Regions from separate parts of the Homo sapiens genome. Here region 2 is linked to region 1. The links come from fine-mapping of genetic effects on gene expression. A gene starts in region 1. The other region holds a variant in brackets. All regions are shown on one strand. Distances are from middle to middle. Region 1 holds the start of OCLN (occludin). Region 2 has its middle 28 kb from the start of OCLN.

Region 1 (8,255 bases):
TGAGAATGAAGAGGCCACTTATCACCTACAGGAACTTATGTCAGGAGAGTGACAAGGACAGAAGTCAGACAGCTAAATTAGAGTCGGGGGCAAAAGGGAAGCAGCAGATAGATCCTTGTCAAATATGTTAATCTGAAAACCAGCATCTTGGGCTAATGATAAAATATAAAGTGTTCTCCCCTTGACAATGTTTACTGACCAAAAGCTGTCTTAATGGAAAACTAAGCTAAGATGAAAAAAACAGGCTGAGGCTGGGCAAGGTGGCTCACACTTGTAATCCCAGTACTTTGGGAAGCCAAGGCAGAGGGATTGTTTGAGCCCAGAACTTCAAGATCAGGCTGGGCAACAGAGTAAGACTCCGTTATCTATCTTAAAAAAAAAAAAAAAAAAAAAGTATAAAAAAAGAAAAAATAGTCTGAAAATGCTTTGGCCTCAAATTATTCTTTAAAGAAAACTGTCAATAAGTGAAAAATAAACTTTATTGTATTTAAGAGAAGTCTGTTCCTTTTAGAGCACATGCAGTAACTGTCAATTTGCCTTTAAAAAGTTTAAGTTGTGGCCGGGCGCGGTGGCTCACGCCTGTAATCCCAGCACTTTGGGGGGCCGAGACGGGAGGATCACGAGGTCAGGAGATCGAGACCATCCCCGCTAACACAGTGAAACCCCGCCTCTATTAAAAATACAAAAAATTAGCTGGGCATGGTGGCAGGCGCCTGTAGTCCCAACTACTCGGGAGGCCGAGGCAGGAGAATGGTGTGAACCCGGGAGGCGGAGCTTGCAGTAAGCCAAGATCGTGCCACTGCACTCCAGCCTGGGAGACAGCGAGACTCTGTCTCAAAAAAAAAAAAAAAAGTTTAAGTTGTGCCTTATATTAAATGATTTAGACTACAGGCACATCATTAGTAAATTGTCTAAAAATTTGAAGTTAGGCAGATTTTGTAATAGACTCTGTGTCAGAAATTGTATTTTTAATAAATCTTCCAGGTGATTTTTAAACACATCACATATTTTGAGAATTGCTGTCTACAATAAAGGTGTCAATCCAAAAAGGACATTGATCTTGCAATTTCCTGTCTAGAAAGCCCAGATCTTTTACACAACAGACACCTGCTGTTCAGGTCTCAGCTCAGACGTCACCTTCTGGGAGATGCCCTCCCTGTCCCTCACTCCATCACACAAAACTTGTTTTTTTTTTCAGAGCAAACTCCCCTCTGCCCTCATACCTAAAATATAGGTATCATCTCCACCGCATCTGGAATGCCCATATCCCAGACATCAAATGTCTATTTTGACCATCATTTATATCCCTGGTCGCTGGAACTAGCCCTGGCACAAAGTGATTGTCAATGAGTACTCAATTAATAAAACCAACAGTCAATTATTAGAGTTGGGATTTCAATCCAGCAGTGAATGCCTTGAAGTTCTTCACACAACACTCAATAAACGTTATTTTTTCCAACTTCAGTTTGTCAAATGTAATTAAGTGCGTAGAGTCTAAGAGAAAGGGAGAAAAAGAAGACAGAACAGTCTGAGAATCACCTGTGAGCCTGTTAGAAAGGCAGAATCCCAGGCCCCACTCCTGACCTCCCAATCAGAATCTGTGTTTTAATAGGATCCCTAAGTGATTCATACCACAGCCAAGACTGGAATCACTGGGTTACGGAACAGCGGCAAGCCTAGGGGTTAAAACAAAAAGCCTAACATAAATCTGCATGGTCTGTTTACTCTCTTATTTCCATAAATAGTAATTTGATGAAAAAGATCCATTAATATTCCAATCAAATAAGCCTTAAAATGCAACTGAAGAAAACTTCCTTCTGGGAGGTTCCTAGGAAGATGAAAGATATTACATCAGATCATTTATGTGGTTAAAAGTAATATACTATTTTGAAAAGGTAGTAATTCCAACACTACCTTTAGAAGAAAACAAGAATTTTACCTTGATATCAAGCAAAATGCGGGAAATCTTGTATCAGGCTACAGTTACTAGTCAATGGTAGAAAAGTCCAGAAAAATTCCCCAAATCTGGTTCTGGAATATCAAGGACCGCTGCTTCTGATACTCCTTCCCATATTAGCTGAAGCAGTTTGCAAGCAAGCCCACCTGCAACGTTTCCCCCACGGCATTTGCCCACTTTTAAAATGGAGTTCTACTAAGGCCTGCCTTTTAGAGTTGTTGGGATAATTAAATGAGAAAATACAGAATGCTTTTACCACAGTGCCTCACGTGCAGGAGGCACTGCTGCCCACTATTTCCCGAAATGGCCTGGAAACTGCCAAAAGGTGGAGAATCATGTCTTACCGATCTCCCTATCCTCTGCTCCGTCACCTAACAAAGGAGGCCCCTAATAACTAAATAAATTGCAAAACGACCAAAAAAAAAGTGTTGCTTTGTTTGAGGAAATATCTCTGCCTCCCACACACACTTAAGATGTCTATTTTAAAGCACCACTAAGAAAATATTCATAAAGGCTGGGTGTGGTGGCTTACGCCTGTAATCCCAGCACTTTGGGAGGCCAAGGCGGGCGAATCACCTGAGGTCAGGAGTTCGAGACCAGCCTGACCAAATGGCAAAACCCTGTCTCTACTAAAAATACAAAAATTAGCTGTGCATACTAGTGGGTGCCTGTAATCCCAGCTATTCGGGAGGCTGAGCAGGAGAATCGCTTGAACCCGGGAGGCAGAGGTTGCAGTGAGCCCAGATGATGCCACTGCACTGGGGGACAGAGCCAGACTCCGTCTCGGAAAAACACACACACACACACACACAAGCACCTCATATGTACAGTGCAAAAGAACTACTGTTACTATTGTTACACTTGGGAACGCCTAGTTTTCTATCACACCAAGAATCACCAAAAAACACCATAAGTGCCTTCATGGGAAACGTTTCTCTTTTCCAGGTATCCCAATAATACACCTGTTGCCTAAGGGCCACACACTGACTGGCCTGGAAAGCCGCCGCCTCCTCCTCGAGCAGGGTAATTCCCCAAGCGGGCAGTGTGGCCAGCGAGCCCCGGGTCCGGCCTAAGGATGCCGCGGCTTTTCCCTCGGGCCCGGTGGCTTCCCGAGGAGCGCGAGGGGCTCGGCGCCGCTCCCAACCCCTAGGCGCAGAGGCCATCTTGGCCCTCGACCCCTGCTCCCCGCACGCTTCCTCCGACGCAGGCAACATGGCTGGCGCGCGGGGCCGGCCCAGTCCCGGAGGTCCCCAAACTCCGTGGCCCGGCTGGGCGCGGGTCCCGGCTTCCGTGCGCACCGAGGCGCTCCCAGGCAGCGCGCGCCCACGTTCGCCGGGCAGGCACCGCCCGGAGGCAGTTCCGCCCCCCTGGGGGCAGCCCTTTTGGTCACGGATGAGAATCCGAAGCGTGAGCAGCTTCCCTCGAAGTCCAGCCTCACTCGAAATTAACTCCCCGCCCCCCAGCTTAAATCGACGCGGGTTCACACAACTCGCAACAAGTGGATTCGAAGTAGCCAGTGTGGCCCACACCGTGACTCCTGGAATATTTCACAGATTGAATCCAGCCCCCGTCTCCCCGGGATATCCAAAGGGGTGGGGTGGGAGCGGAAGGAATGAAATTCCCCCCGGGATCTAAGCCGCCCGGGCCGCCGAACAGCCGCCTCGCTGCAGCCTCAGGCTTAGGACCCCCAAGGAGCTGGGCGCAGGATCCCTCTCCATGAAGGCCGCCCCCCCAAACTGCAGCCCCAGAGCGGATGCAGGATCGTCGCTGTTCAGGAATGTCGTGCCCCATAAAAGTGAAAAGTTGCCCGCGCCGCTGAGGCACTGCTAGCTTTCAGCGTTTCCGCGGAATAAAGCTTGATCGGCGGCTCCAAGCCACCCCTCGCCCCAGGAGGCAGCCTCCCAAGTTGGCCGGTGCTGCTCTCTCCGCAGACCCGCGCCTCTCTGGTTCCCACGAGTCCCAGCTCGGGGACGAAACTGCCACCGAAACCAGCGCGGAGCGTCCTCCCCCCGGCACCTCCCCTAACATAGTCGCCGCGGTCCCCCCACGGGGACCCTCGGGCTCCCGTGCGCCCCTGACGCCGCGCCCAACACTCACCCGCTCGCCGCAACTGGGCCCGACCCTCCGGGGGCCAACGGTGCCAGGGAGCGCGCTCACCTGGCGGGCGCACCTGACGCCGCACCGACCGCCAGCGCTCAGCCGGGGACTGGGCTGGGGACGTCTCCTCCCCCTTCTCCCTCTCCTTTCCCTCCTCCCTACAACCGGCCCTGCCCCCGGGCATGCGCACCAACGTGGAAGGGGGTGCGGGAAGCCTGCGGGCCAGCGCCGCGAGTCCCACCTGCTGCGTCCTAGACCGGCTCCTCGGCGCTCTGGACCTGGCTCTCGGTTCCTGCCGCCTCCGCCAGAGGAAGCAGGGAGGGAGAGGTGGACGCGGGAGTGTAGGTGTGGTGTGTCGGCCTCCTCCCTCGGTGACCAATTCACCTGAAACTCGGATGGGAGGGGGCGGGAGGACGCGGTCCTGCTTCCCACACCCTGCCAGCGCGCTGTTAAAGGAACCGCGCGACGTTGCGGCCCGAGAGGCGGGGCGCAGAGGAGAGGCGCGGGCTCCTAGGGGGCAGCACGGATGGGGGTCCCTGACCACCCCGGGGTGCGTTCGGTGCTCCGCCTGCTTCGGATGGAACCTTGGGGTGTCTGATGGAGAGAGGCCGAACGAGGTCCAGAGGGGACTGTTTCCTCCGGAAAGAGGGTCCAGGCACTCAGCACTTTGATAGGAAAGGCACGTCCTCACAGGACACTTTTCTGCTTCCAGAATTTGATTAAACTGTTGCTGGAAAAAGGCATCTAGATGTATTGCTCCAACGAAAGACTCCTGGGAAAATTTCAAAAGTCGTGTGTAAACATTGGCGCTGTTTCTGAATCTCTAGATTCAGAATAAGAGACAATTACTTAGAGGGGTTAAAATGAGGGTGAACTACTGTAGGTGTTAGTTGCCATCCAGCAGGCTAAAGTGCATAATACAGTTTACACATCACCACCCCAGGGTCCTCTCCTGCCCACCCGGTCCGCTCTTGAGGACCGGGAAATTTAAACTATTATGGCTCTTTGGCCTGAGAAAAAGCACCTTATACGTTGTTTACCAACCTGTAGTGCTTTAAGAACAACACTACTTAAAAAGCAAAATAAACTTGGTTTACTTTTTTTTTTTTTTTAAGAAAACGAAAAAGCACCTTAGTTCCGGGTGCTGTATTCTATTTCTTGATCTGGATTCTGTTTCCAAGGGAAATTTCATAGTCTGCACTTAACACTGTGTATATTTTTATGTATGTTGGTTGTTTTTCAACATATTTTTTAATTGTACTCCAGGATGTGGCAATTATAGTTCTTGGCATTTAACTATCTGCATTGAAAGCGAACTTTTAGGTTTCTTACATCCTGCTTGTCTTTGTGTTCCAATCTGGAATGTCAGCATTGCTAATAAATTTCTATCCAATCCCACCCACTTCTCTACCTTTAATTAAATGGTTAGAGATGTGACTCTCCCATACATTAGATCTTAAGGCACAATTCATACTTGAGGAAGTAAAAGCACTATATAAATATGAGGTATTTCAGATGATGGCAGCTTTAATGGGTAATTAATTTAATTGGTATTTTTTTCGTGGAAGTCATTGCTACAAATGCTTTAATATGACTATGTAGTTTTTGAATGATGCAGTTTAAATTGGTATTGTTAACACTGGGGAAGTCAGGTTAATCCCCTTAATGTTCCCTGTCAGATTACTGAAATCTCCAAACATTCCATTTGGTTTATAATTAAACAAGGGAACATTTCCTAATACTCTCAGATTTGTAAACACATGTCTATTATTTTATAATGTATTTTGACATGTTCTGAAGAGATCTTAGGAGTTTTTTTCCACTTTATAAAAGAGAGTTCACATACCATAAAATTCACCCTTTTAAAGGGCACGTACAATTCAGTGGGTTTTAGTATACTCACCAGATTGTACAACCATCACCACCATCTAATTCCATTTTAATCGCCCCCAAAAGAAACCCCATGCCCATTAATAGTCACTCCCCATTTCCCCTCTCCCCTCATCCCTCGGCAACCACTAATGTACTTTCTGTCTCTATTAATTTGCCTATTCTGGACATTTTATATGAATGGATAATACAATATGTGCCCTTTGTGTCTGTCTTCTTTCACTTAGCATAATATTTTAAAGGTTCATCCATGATGTAGTATGTATTGGTACTTCATTCCTTTTTATAACTGAATAATATTCCATTGTATCGATGTATCACATTTCGTTTAATCATTCATCTGTTGATGAACATTTGGGTTGTTTCTCCTTTGGGGATGTTATGAATAATGTTACTATGAACATTTGTGTACAAGTTTTTGTGTGGACATATGTTTTCGGTTCTCTTGGTAAATTAGGTTTTTAAATTAAACTTTTTATCATTTTAAGATAACTTATGCATATCATGTTATTTTTCTTATTCCCACCCTAAACCTAAACTCAAAGACATGTTGTGTTGGGTAGAAGGCTTTCATATTCTATTTGCTTTCCCAATTCATTCCTTCAACTATTTTCTGAGTGCCTAATCTGTACACACACGAGTGAACAAAACTCAAAAATCTCTGTGAAACTTACTTTCTAGTTAGTTCTGAGTTCATCCATATGGAATAATAGGATTCATTAATTGTATGAATTCTATTTTATTCGCTTGAGATTAATTTTCTAAACAACAACATCAAAAGAACGGTTAACTATTGTCCAATATTGTGTATATTTCATAGTTGAAAGTGTCTAGAAAGAAAATCCAGCCTTAAAACTTAAACACATCATTCTTCAATACCAAAACAAAATTTGTTGGATGTTAAATGATGCCATGCTCAATTTAATCATGTTACATAATCATAAATTATAGCAAAATTTAATTACTATATTTTTTACCAAATATTCCTTCTTGGCAACTCACAGTAGTATTGAGTAGTATCCACTATTGAATATTATTTGATGAAAATCCCCGTGACTCAGAGCAATGTAAATATTATTTTCAGAACCCCATGATTAGAAACTTGTTGACTTTACCTGCAGTCAAATGGATAAGATGAAAAGACAATTTGTTTCTCCTTTTCTATGTGTAAAAGAGAAACTTAAGAGCTCAGATTATGGTGTCAGAAATCTCAGTTCAAATTCCAGTGTTGCTACTTGGTAGCTGGGTAGGACTAAAGGAAATTAAACTATGTAAGGTTCATTTTTTTCCACCGTAAATTTGAGATGATAATAAACAATACTGTCTTTATAAGTCTGTTGGTGGGAATGTGGAGCATTCACCAAGACAGACTATATGCTGAGCCACGAAACAAGTCTCAATAAATTGAGCAAGCCATTGCTGTATCCTATATGCCTGAAATAGTTCCTGTCACATAGGAATTACATAACTATGTGTTGGATGAATGAATGAATGACTATAGCCCTGCTTCCCAAATCCAACATGCCTGTGGAGTCTTGTCCTCCTCTCAGATGGCCTCCTGCTATTGTGAAACCCGCACGTTCCTTAGTAGCATTTCAAGGCTTACATCTCTAGTACTAGGGTTTAGAGGAGAAAAGACGGGAGATTAACATAGTTCCACTGTTTCCACTCTGCCTTGCCTGCTTAGTAAATGAATTCAAAGACTGGTATGTGTCCAAGGCAACTCAGTTTGGAGTTGCTGAGGGCCTGGCCTGAAAGGCCTCTAGTTTCTCTGCCCAGTCATGAGGAGGGGGAGGCTTCTGGTCCACACAGGACAGTTTCCTTGGACAGGTGTATGGAAGAATTTATGGGGAAGCCACTAGGAAGACAATTTCTAAAAGGATGATTACACTAGATGAGTAAACCTTTATCTTCTCTATTCCTATGTGTTAAGCAAGATCCTCCTGGGAGGAATCCATATTTAAACAAAGAGACTCAGCACCTGAACAGGAACTTCAACAGGTGGAAGAATAATAATAGCACCATTTACTCAGGGAAAAACATGTTCTAAGTACTATGCTAAGTGTTTTTTTGGTTTTCTGTTTGTTTGTTTTGAAACAGAGTCTCCTCCGTAGCCCAGGCTGGAGTGCAATGGTGTGATCAGCTCTCTGCAACCTCCGCCTCCTGGGTTCAAATGATTCTCCTATGTCAGCCTCCTGAATAGTTGGGACTACAGGCACCTGCCACCACGCCTGGCTAATTTTTGTATTTTCAGTAGAGATGGGATTTCACCTTGTTGGTCAGGCTGGTCTCGAACTCCTGACCTCAGGTG
Region 2 (8,421 bases), 28 kb after region 1:
TAGACAGTTCTGGTCTTAAGCTTGAACCTTACATTTGTATTATCTGAGTTCCTTCCTCAGGAAAGGACCCTCAAAAGCCTCTCAAAAAGTACCTGAAGAAAAAGAACTGAAACTCACCAGATCGTTGCATCCAGACAATGAGACACCAGGCCCTTCATTCATCATGATTGCTTCCTTACCCCTCTCAAGTTGAGTTCCTGTTTTCCCATGCATAGTTACATTTCTTCCCTGCTAGATTAACCCCTAATTATAGTCAGTCAGGAGATGAATTTGAGACTAGTTCCCATGTCTTCAGCTGCAGCACCCAATTAAAGCTTTCTTCCTTGGCAATACTCATTGTCTCAGTGATTGGTTTTCTGTGCTATGAGGAGCAGGACTTAGACTGAATACCTGCTATTATGGTAACAAAAGCATGGTCTATGCTGGAGGCATCTGTGGTTTTTGCATGTCTAGCTTCTATTAGAGCACACATGCAGCTTTTCATTTATAACTCACCCTTCTTCAGCCCAGCGCAGTGGCTCATGCCTGTAATCCCAGCACTTTGGGAGGTCAAGTGGGTGCATCACGAGGTCAGGAGATCAAGACCATCCTGGCTAACACGGTGAAACCTCGTCTCTACTAAAAATACAAAAAAATTAGCCAGGCGTGGTGCCAGGCGCCTGTAGTCCCAGCTACTCTGGAGGCTGAGGCAGGAGAATGGCGTGAACCCGGGAGGCAGAGATTGCAGTGAGCCAAGATCGCACCACTGCACTCCAGCCTAGGCAACAGAGTGAGACTCCATCTCAAAAAAAAAAAAAGAAAAAGAAAAAGAAAAAAAAACCTTATCTTTCTTCCATTCCATGAGGTCCTGACGGGATTGTGTTCTGCCCACACATTAGCGGATATGAGATCCAGGCTGCCTCATCTGATGTGGTGATAGGTTCAAAGATGGACACATAACCCAAACCAAGACCTATCAGACGCTTCCAGAGACATGATAGAAAGCTGCTGGAAGAGAGCCACTTCCCTGTAACCCACTACGTGCTTATGTACTGGAGCTGACACCAGGCATCTTCCGCAGTTACACAGAGAAAGTCTAAACATGACAGCATGAGACTAAATATGCTGTGAGAAGCAGTGAAGATGAGAGAAACAGACTGAAAGGGAACCCTGAAGCCAAGTCAGCTCCTAAACTTCTCAGTTCTCTAATTCAAAAGAGTCCCTTGTATGCATAAGCTGATTTGAGTTTCTGTTATTAGAAACCAAAGCCGTTCTGACTAATACAGTTTCAGTCCTCAAATTCATATCTTATGAAATTTGATAGTTATTTACTTAATAAGAGACCATTTAAAAAATATCAGCTAATTCTGAAACATACAAGCTCAGTTTAAGCATCTTATGATGACCTCAGCACCCTAGAAGGCCTGTTTCTAGAGAACACTACTTCTGCTCTCAATAGTGGAGATGGGTGGTTAGCAATAGTTGTGTTGTACCTAAACCTGTTATTCCCACTTGTACTTGCTACTACATGTGTGTACGTATGTGTATGATTTAATTAAATATTATTTAAATGATAAAATATGATGCGGGCCAGCTGCTGTGGCTCAGGCCTATAATCCCAGTACTTGGATAGGCCAAAGTGGGTGGATCACCTGAGGTCAGCAGTTCAAAACCAGCCTGGCCAACATGGTGAAACCCCGTCTCTACCAAAAACACAAAAATTAGTCAGGCATGATCGTATGCACCTGTAAACCCAGCTACTCAGGAGGCTGAGGCAGGAGAATCACTTGAACCTGGGAAGTGGAGGTTGCAGTGAGCTGAGATCATGCTGTGTCCGGAATTGGTTCCTTACGGTGGATTCTTGGTCTCGCTAACTTCAAGAATGAAGCTGCAGACCCTCGTGGTGAGTGTTACAGTTCTTACACGTAGTGTGTCCGGAGTTTGTTCCTTCAGATGTTCAGATATGTCCAGAGTTTCTTCCTTCCGGTGGGCTCGTGGTCTAGCTTGACTTCAGGAGTGAAGCTGCAGACCTTCGCAGTGAGTGTTACAGCTCTTAAATGTGGCGCATCCAGCGTTGTTTGTTCCTCCCGGTGGGTTCGTGGTCTCACTGATTTCAGGAGCAAAGCTGCAGACCTTCGCAGTGAGTGTTACAACTCATAAAGGTAGTGCGGACCCAGAGGGAGCAGCAGCAAGATTTATTGTGAAGAGCAAAAGAACAAACCTTCCACAGCCTGGAAGGGGACCCGAACTGGTTGCTGCTGCTGGCTCCGGTGGCCAGCTTTTATTCCCTTATTTGGCCCTGCCAACGTCCTGCTGATTGGTCCATTTTACAGAGTGCTAATTGGTCCATTTTACAGAGTGCTGATTGGTCCATTTTTACAGAGTGCTGATTGGTGTGTTTACAAACCTTTAGCTAGTCACAGAGCACTGATTGGTGCATTTTTACAGAGTGTTGATTGGTGCATTTACAAACCTTTAGCTAGACACAGAGCGCTGATTGGTGCATATTTAGAGTACTGATTGGTGTGTTTACAAACCTTTAGCTAGACACAGAGTGCTGATTGGTGTGTTTACAATCCTCTAGCTAGACAGAAAAGTTCTCCAAGTTCCCACCCAACCCAGAAGCCCAGCTGGCTTCAATTCTCAATGCCACTGCATTCCAGCCTGGGCTACAGAGTGAGACCCTGCCATAAAAACAAACAAACAAAAACCACACAAATAACATAAAATAAAATATGATGACCCCAACAGAAAGGTGTTTCTAGGCTGGGCACGGTGGCTCATGTCTGTAATCCCAGCACTTTGGGAGGTGGAGGTGGGTGCATCACGAGGTCAGGAGTTTGAGACAAGCCAGGCCAACATGATGAAATCCTGTCTCTACTAAAAATACAAAAATTAGTCAGGTGTGGTGGCATGCACCTGTAATTCCAGCTACTCAGGAAGCTGAAGCAGGAGAATCTTTTGAACCTGGGAGGGAGAGGTTACAGTGAGCTATGATCGCACCATTGCACTCCAGCCTGGGCGACGTAGTGAGACTCTGTCCCAAACAAACAAACAAACAAACAAAAAGGTATTTCTATAAAAATCAAGTTAATTGTTAAAAGACTCATAATGATGTTGCTTTAGAAAAAAAAAATGTTGGCTAGGTAGGGTGGCTCACGCCTGTAATCCCAACACTTTCGGAGGCTGAGGCTGGAGGATCCTGTGAGCCCAGGAGTTTGAGACCAGCCTGGGCAGCATGGCAAGACCCCCTCTCTATGAAAAAATTAAAAATTAGCCAGGCGTGGTGGCACACACCTGTGGTCCTAGCTACTCAGGATCCTGAGGTGGGAGGATCACTTAATCCCACAAGGTCAAGGCTGCAGTGAGCCGTGTTCACACCACTGCACTCCAACCTGGGTAACAGAGCGAGACTCTGTCTCTAAAAAAAATTAATTAATGAAAAATGAAAAATGAAAAAAAATTAAGACAAACTATGGCACCCATATGTCACTTTTTGATGTTTAGCTTTAATCTACTTTTTTGAATTGACATTCTAATTACTGATCCCAGCTGTGTCAGGTAAGAGAGCAACAATCTGTTGACTTCAAAATTATCTTACCTGAACAATAGGAGATATGAACTTACTTAGGGGTTGGAAGATTTATTTTAATTATGACCCCACAGAAAAGATTCAAGACAACAAAACTTTAAGATAAGACTTTCTAATATATTAGGTAACAGAGTAAACTTAAATGAGATATTTGTTTACCTTTATTTTTATTTATTATTATTTATTATTATTTTTTGATGGGGTCTTGCTCTGTCACCCAGGCTGGAGTGCAGCGGCAAGATCTCGGATCACTGCAGCCTCCACCTCCTGGGTTCAAGCAATTCTCCCACCTAAGCTACCTGAGTAGCTGGGATTACAGGGGCACGCCACCACACCTGGCTAATTTTTGTATTTTTAGTAGAGACAGGGTTTCACCATGTTGGGAAGGCTGGTCTTGAACTCTTGACCTCACGTGATCCACCCACCTTGGCCTCCCAAAGTGCTGAGATTACAGG[C/T]GTGAGCCACTGCACCCCGGCCTATTTTTATTTTTTAATATTTATTTATTTTTGAGACAGAGTTATGCTCTTGTTGCCCAAGCTGGAGTGCAATGGCGTGATCTCGGCTCACCGCAACCTCTGCCTCCCGGGTTCAAGCAATTCTCCTGCCTCAGCCTCCCGAGTAGCTGGGATTACAGGCATGCGTCACCACACCCAGCTAATTTTGTATTTTTAGTAGAGACAGGGTTTCTCCATGTTGGTCAGGCTGGTCTTGAACTCCCGACCTCAGATGATCCGCCCGCCTTGGCCTTATTTTTATTTTTTTAGAGACGGAGTCTGACTCTGTCACCCAGGCTAGAGGGCCGTGGTGTGATCATAGCTCACCACAGCCTTGAACTCCTGGGTTACAGTGATCCTCCCGCCTTGTTCTCCCAAAATGCTGGTATTACAGGCATGAACCACCATGCCTGGTTGCAGTCTTACCTGTTTTTTTTCAAAAATGTTCTGACTATTCCATCCTATTGTAGCCTCTTCAGAATTCTCTCTCTCCAGGATTTAAGGCGCTATCAAGGTCTGTCAATCCTGAGATGAGTTATGTGAAAGTATTTAAGAAAGGATAGGGCCGGGAGCGGTGGCTCACGCCTGTAATCCCAGCACTTTGGGAGGCCAAGCCGGGTGGACCACGAGGTCAAGAGATCGAGACCATCCTGACCAACATGGTGAAACCTCGTCTCTACTAAAAATACAAAAACTTAGCCAGGCATGGTGGTGGGCAACTGTAGTCCCAGCTACTCGGGAGGCTGAGGCAGGAGAATCACTTGAAACTGGGAGGTGGAGGTTGCAGTGAGCCGAGATTGTGCCACTGCACTCCAGCCTGGGTGACAGAGCAAGACTCCATCTTAAAAAAAAAAAAATGATAAGGACTAAGGACTATATACATGTAAAAGTATAGTACTTCCTTCTCTTTCTCATTCTGTCTCTCTCTCTCTTTCTCTCTTTCTTTCACAGGATCTTGCTCTGTTGCCCAGGCTGGAGGGCAGTGGTGAGATCATGGCTCACTGCAACCTGGAACTCCTGGGCTCAAGTGATCCTTCTGCCTCCTGCCTCAGCCTCCAGAGTAGCTGGGACTACAGGCTTGCTCCACCACATCTGGCTAATATATACATCTAATATATTATATGTATTATATACATCTAATATATTATATGTATTATATACATCTAATATATTAGATGTATTATATACATCTAATATATGTATTATATACATCTAATATATGTATTATATACATCTAATATATGTATTATATACATCTAATATATGTATTATATACATCTAATATATGTATTATATACATATAATATATGTATTATATACATATAATATATGTATTATATACATATAATATATTATATGAATATATATATAATATATTATATGAATATATAATACATATACTATAGTATATGTATTATATACATATACTATAGTATATGTATTATATATTCATATACTATAGTATATGTATTATATATTCATATACTATAGTATATGTATTATATATTCATATAATATAGTATATGTATTATATATTCATATAATATAGTATATGTATTATATATTCATATAATATAGTATATGTATTATATATTCATATAATATAGTATATGTATTATATATTCATATAATATAGTATATGTATTATATATTCATATAATATAGTATATGTATTATATATTCATATAATATAGTATATGTATTATATATTCATATAATATAGTATATGTATTATATATTCATATAGTATATGTATTATATATTCATATAATACAGTATATGTATTATATATTCATATAATACAGTATATGTATTATATATTCATATAATACAGTATATGTATTATATATTCATATAATACAGTATATGTATTATATATTCATATAATATAGTATATGTATTATATATTTCATATAATATAGTATATGTATTATATATTCATATAATATATATATTATATATTTCATATAATATATATATTATATATTCATATAATATATTATATATATTATATATTTCATATATATATATATTTTTGAGATGGAGTCTTGCTTTGTTGCCCAGGCTGGAGTGCAGTGGTGCCATCTCGGCTCACTGCAACCTCCGCCTCCCGGGTTCAAGCGATTTTTCTGTCTCAGCTTCCCAAGTAGCTGGGATTACAGGTGCACGCCACCACGCCCAGCTAATTTTTGTATTTTTAGTAGAGATGGGGTTCCACCATGTTGGTCAGGCTGGTCTTGAACTCCTGACCTTGTGATCTACCCGCCTCAGCCTCCCAAAGTGCTGGGATTACAGGCGTGAGCCACTGCGCCCGGCCTCTGGCTAATATTTTTAAAACATTTTTTGTAGAGCCAGGTCTTGCTCTGTTGTCCACACTGGTCTCAAGCTCTTGGCTCAAGCGAAACTCCTGCCTTGGCCTCCCATAAATGCAGGAATTACAGATGTGAGCCACTGTGCCCTGCCTTAGTATTTCTTGAGTTGTTATTTAAATGTAAATATTCCCTTGTCTTTAATGCAGCAGAAAATTCCTCAAGAGCCAAAAATACTTTTTAAATTTTTAAAATTTAAAAGTTTTTAAATTGTTTAATTTTAAATTTTAATAAATAAATAAATAAAAATTTAAAAAAATTAAAAATTTTAAAGGGCACTTCATAAATCTCAAACTGCCCTGGTCCTCACAGTCTTTCTAACTTGGCTGAAGATAGCTCTGCTTTTGCTGAGAAAATGTAGATCACTTTCCTCTCTCTCAAAGGATCTGTGGAGTCATCCCTCTCCTCTTACAACCTCTGCTCCCTCTCCTCACATTGTACACTCAGATTTCAAAATCTTGGAGGACGCACCTCCCTCATCCTTCTCGGGGTTAGCTTTATGTTCTCCGAGTGCACCTCCCAAGGGGCAGCCCACTGATTCCAAATTGGAAGTGCTTTCCTTGGTTCTTATGAACCAATGCAGCAGTTTTTTCTTTTCTGTAAGTAAATTTTTATATTGCACTAAGGACTCCTAGTAACTTTCTTCAGGAGTTACTAAGGATAACATGTCTTTGCTATCCAACACCTAGGGTATTAGGCCGGCTGTGGTGGCTCATGCCTGCAATCCCAGCACTTTGGGAGGCCAAGCTGGGAAGATCACTTGAGCCCAGGAGTTCAAGACCAGCCTGGACAACATAGTAAGACCCCGTTTCTAAGACAAAAACAAAAACTAAAACCCTGGGGTATTAGCACTTAAGTTGACAGAGGAATTGATTTGGCATTGTACTGAAAAGTTGAGCTGGCCGGGTGTGGTGGCTCATGCCTGAAATCCTAGCACTTTGGGAGGCCGAGGTGGGCAGATCACTTGAGGTCAGAAGTTCAAGACCAGCCTGACCAACATGGTGAAACCCTGTCTCTACTAAAAATACAAAAATTAGCCGGGTGTGGTGGCGGGCGCCTGGAATCCCAGCTACTCGGGAGGCTGAGGCAGGAGAATTGCTTGAACCTAGGAGGTGGAGGTTACAGTGAGCTGAGATCATGCCACTGCACTCCAGTCTGGGCAACAGAGTGAGACACCGTCTCAAAAAAAGGAAAGAAAAGTTGAAAAGTTGAATTGCTGGTAACTATGTGAAGCTCCCACTATGCAAATACCTACATCCTTGGGATTCCTCAATTTTCTAGTTAGATAGGTATGTTATCAGTACTTTATGTGTTGACTCAGACAGCTCGTTAGGTATTAGCTTGGCTTAGTCTTTCCTTTAAAATGTCAATTATTAGTTTAGCTTCATTATTATCAATTTGGTGTTTCCTTTAGCCAACTGTATAATTTTTGTGATGCTCATTTGCATGAGCATTTTTTTTTTGACACGGAGTCTCGCTCTGTTGCCCAGTCTGGAGTACAATAGCATGATCTCGGCTCACTGCAACCTCCGCCTCCCAGGTTTAAGCGATTCTCCCGCCTCAGCCTCCTGAGTAGCTGGGATTACAGGTGCGTGCCACCACGCCCAGTTAATTTTTGTATTTTTATAGAGATGGGGTTTCTCCATGTTGGTCAGGCTGGTCTCAAACTCCTGACCTCAGGTGATCCACCTGCCTCGGCTTCCAAAGTGCTGGGATTATAGGCGTGAGCATCAGGCCCAGCCAAGTAGGCTTTCTAGGCCATAATTTTCAAGGAATTCGACTTCAAGATGTGTTAGTTTGTTATTCTTTTTTTTTTTTTTTTTGAGACGGACTCTTGCTCTGTCTCCCAGACTGGAGTTCAGTGATGTGATCTCAGCTCACTGCAACCTCTGCCTCCTGGGTTCAAGAGATTCTCCTTCCTCAGCCTCCTGAGTAGCTAGAATGACAGGCGCCCACCACCAGGCTGGTCTCGAACTCCTGACCTCAG

Evidence for each region.
Region 2: its variant is fine-mapped to the expression of OCLN in whole blood (TOPMed, PIP 0.93).

What each region holds. Positions count from the first base shown.
Region 1 is chr5:69,488,700-69,496,954 of GRCh38, reverse strand. OCLN (occludin) reads right to left here and starts at 4,165. Exons shown (of 9, transcript NM_001205254.2): 1 at 4,055-4,165.
Region 2 is chr5:69,460,598-69,469,018 of GRCh38, reverse strand. No RefSeq gene overlaps it. Among named protein-coding and RNA genes, the nearest start is that of OCLN, 28 kb to the left of the region's middle. RefSeq lists a silencer at 6,271-6,439. The variant C/T (reference allele first, on the strand shown) is at 4,027.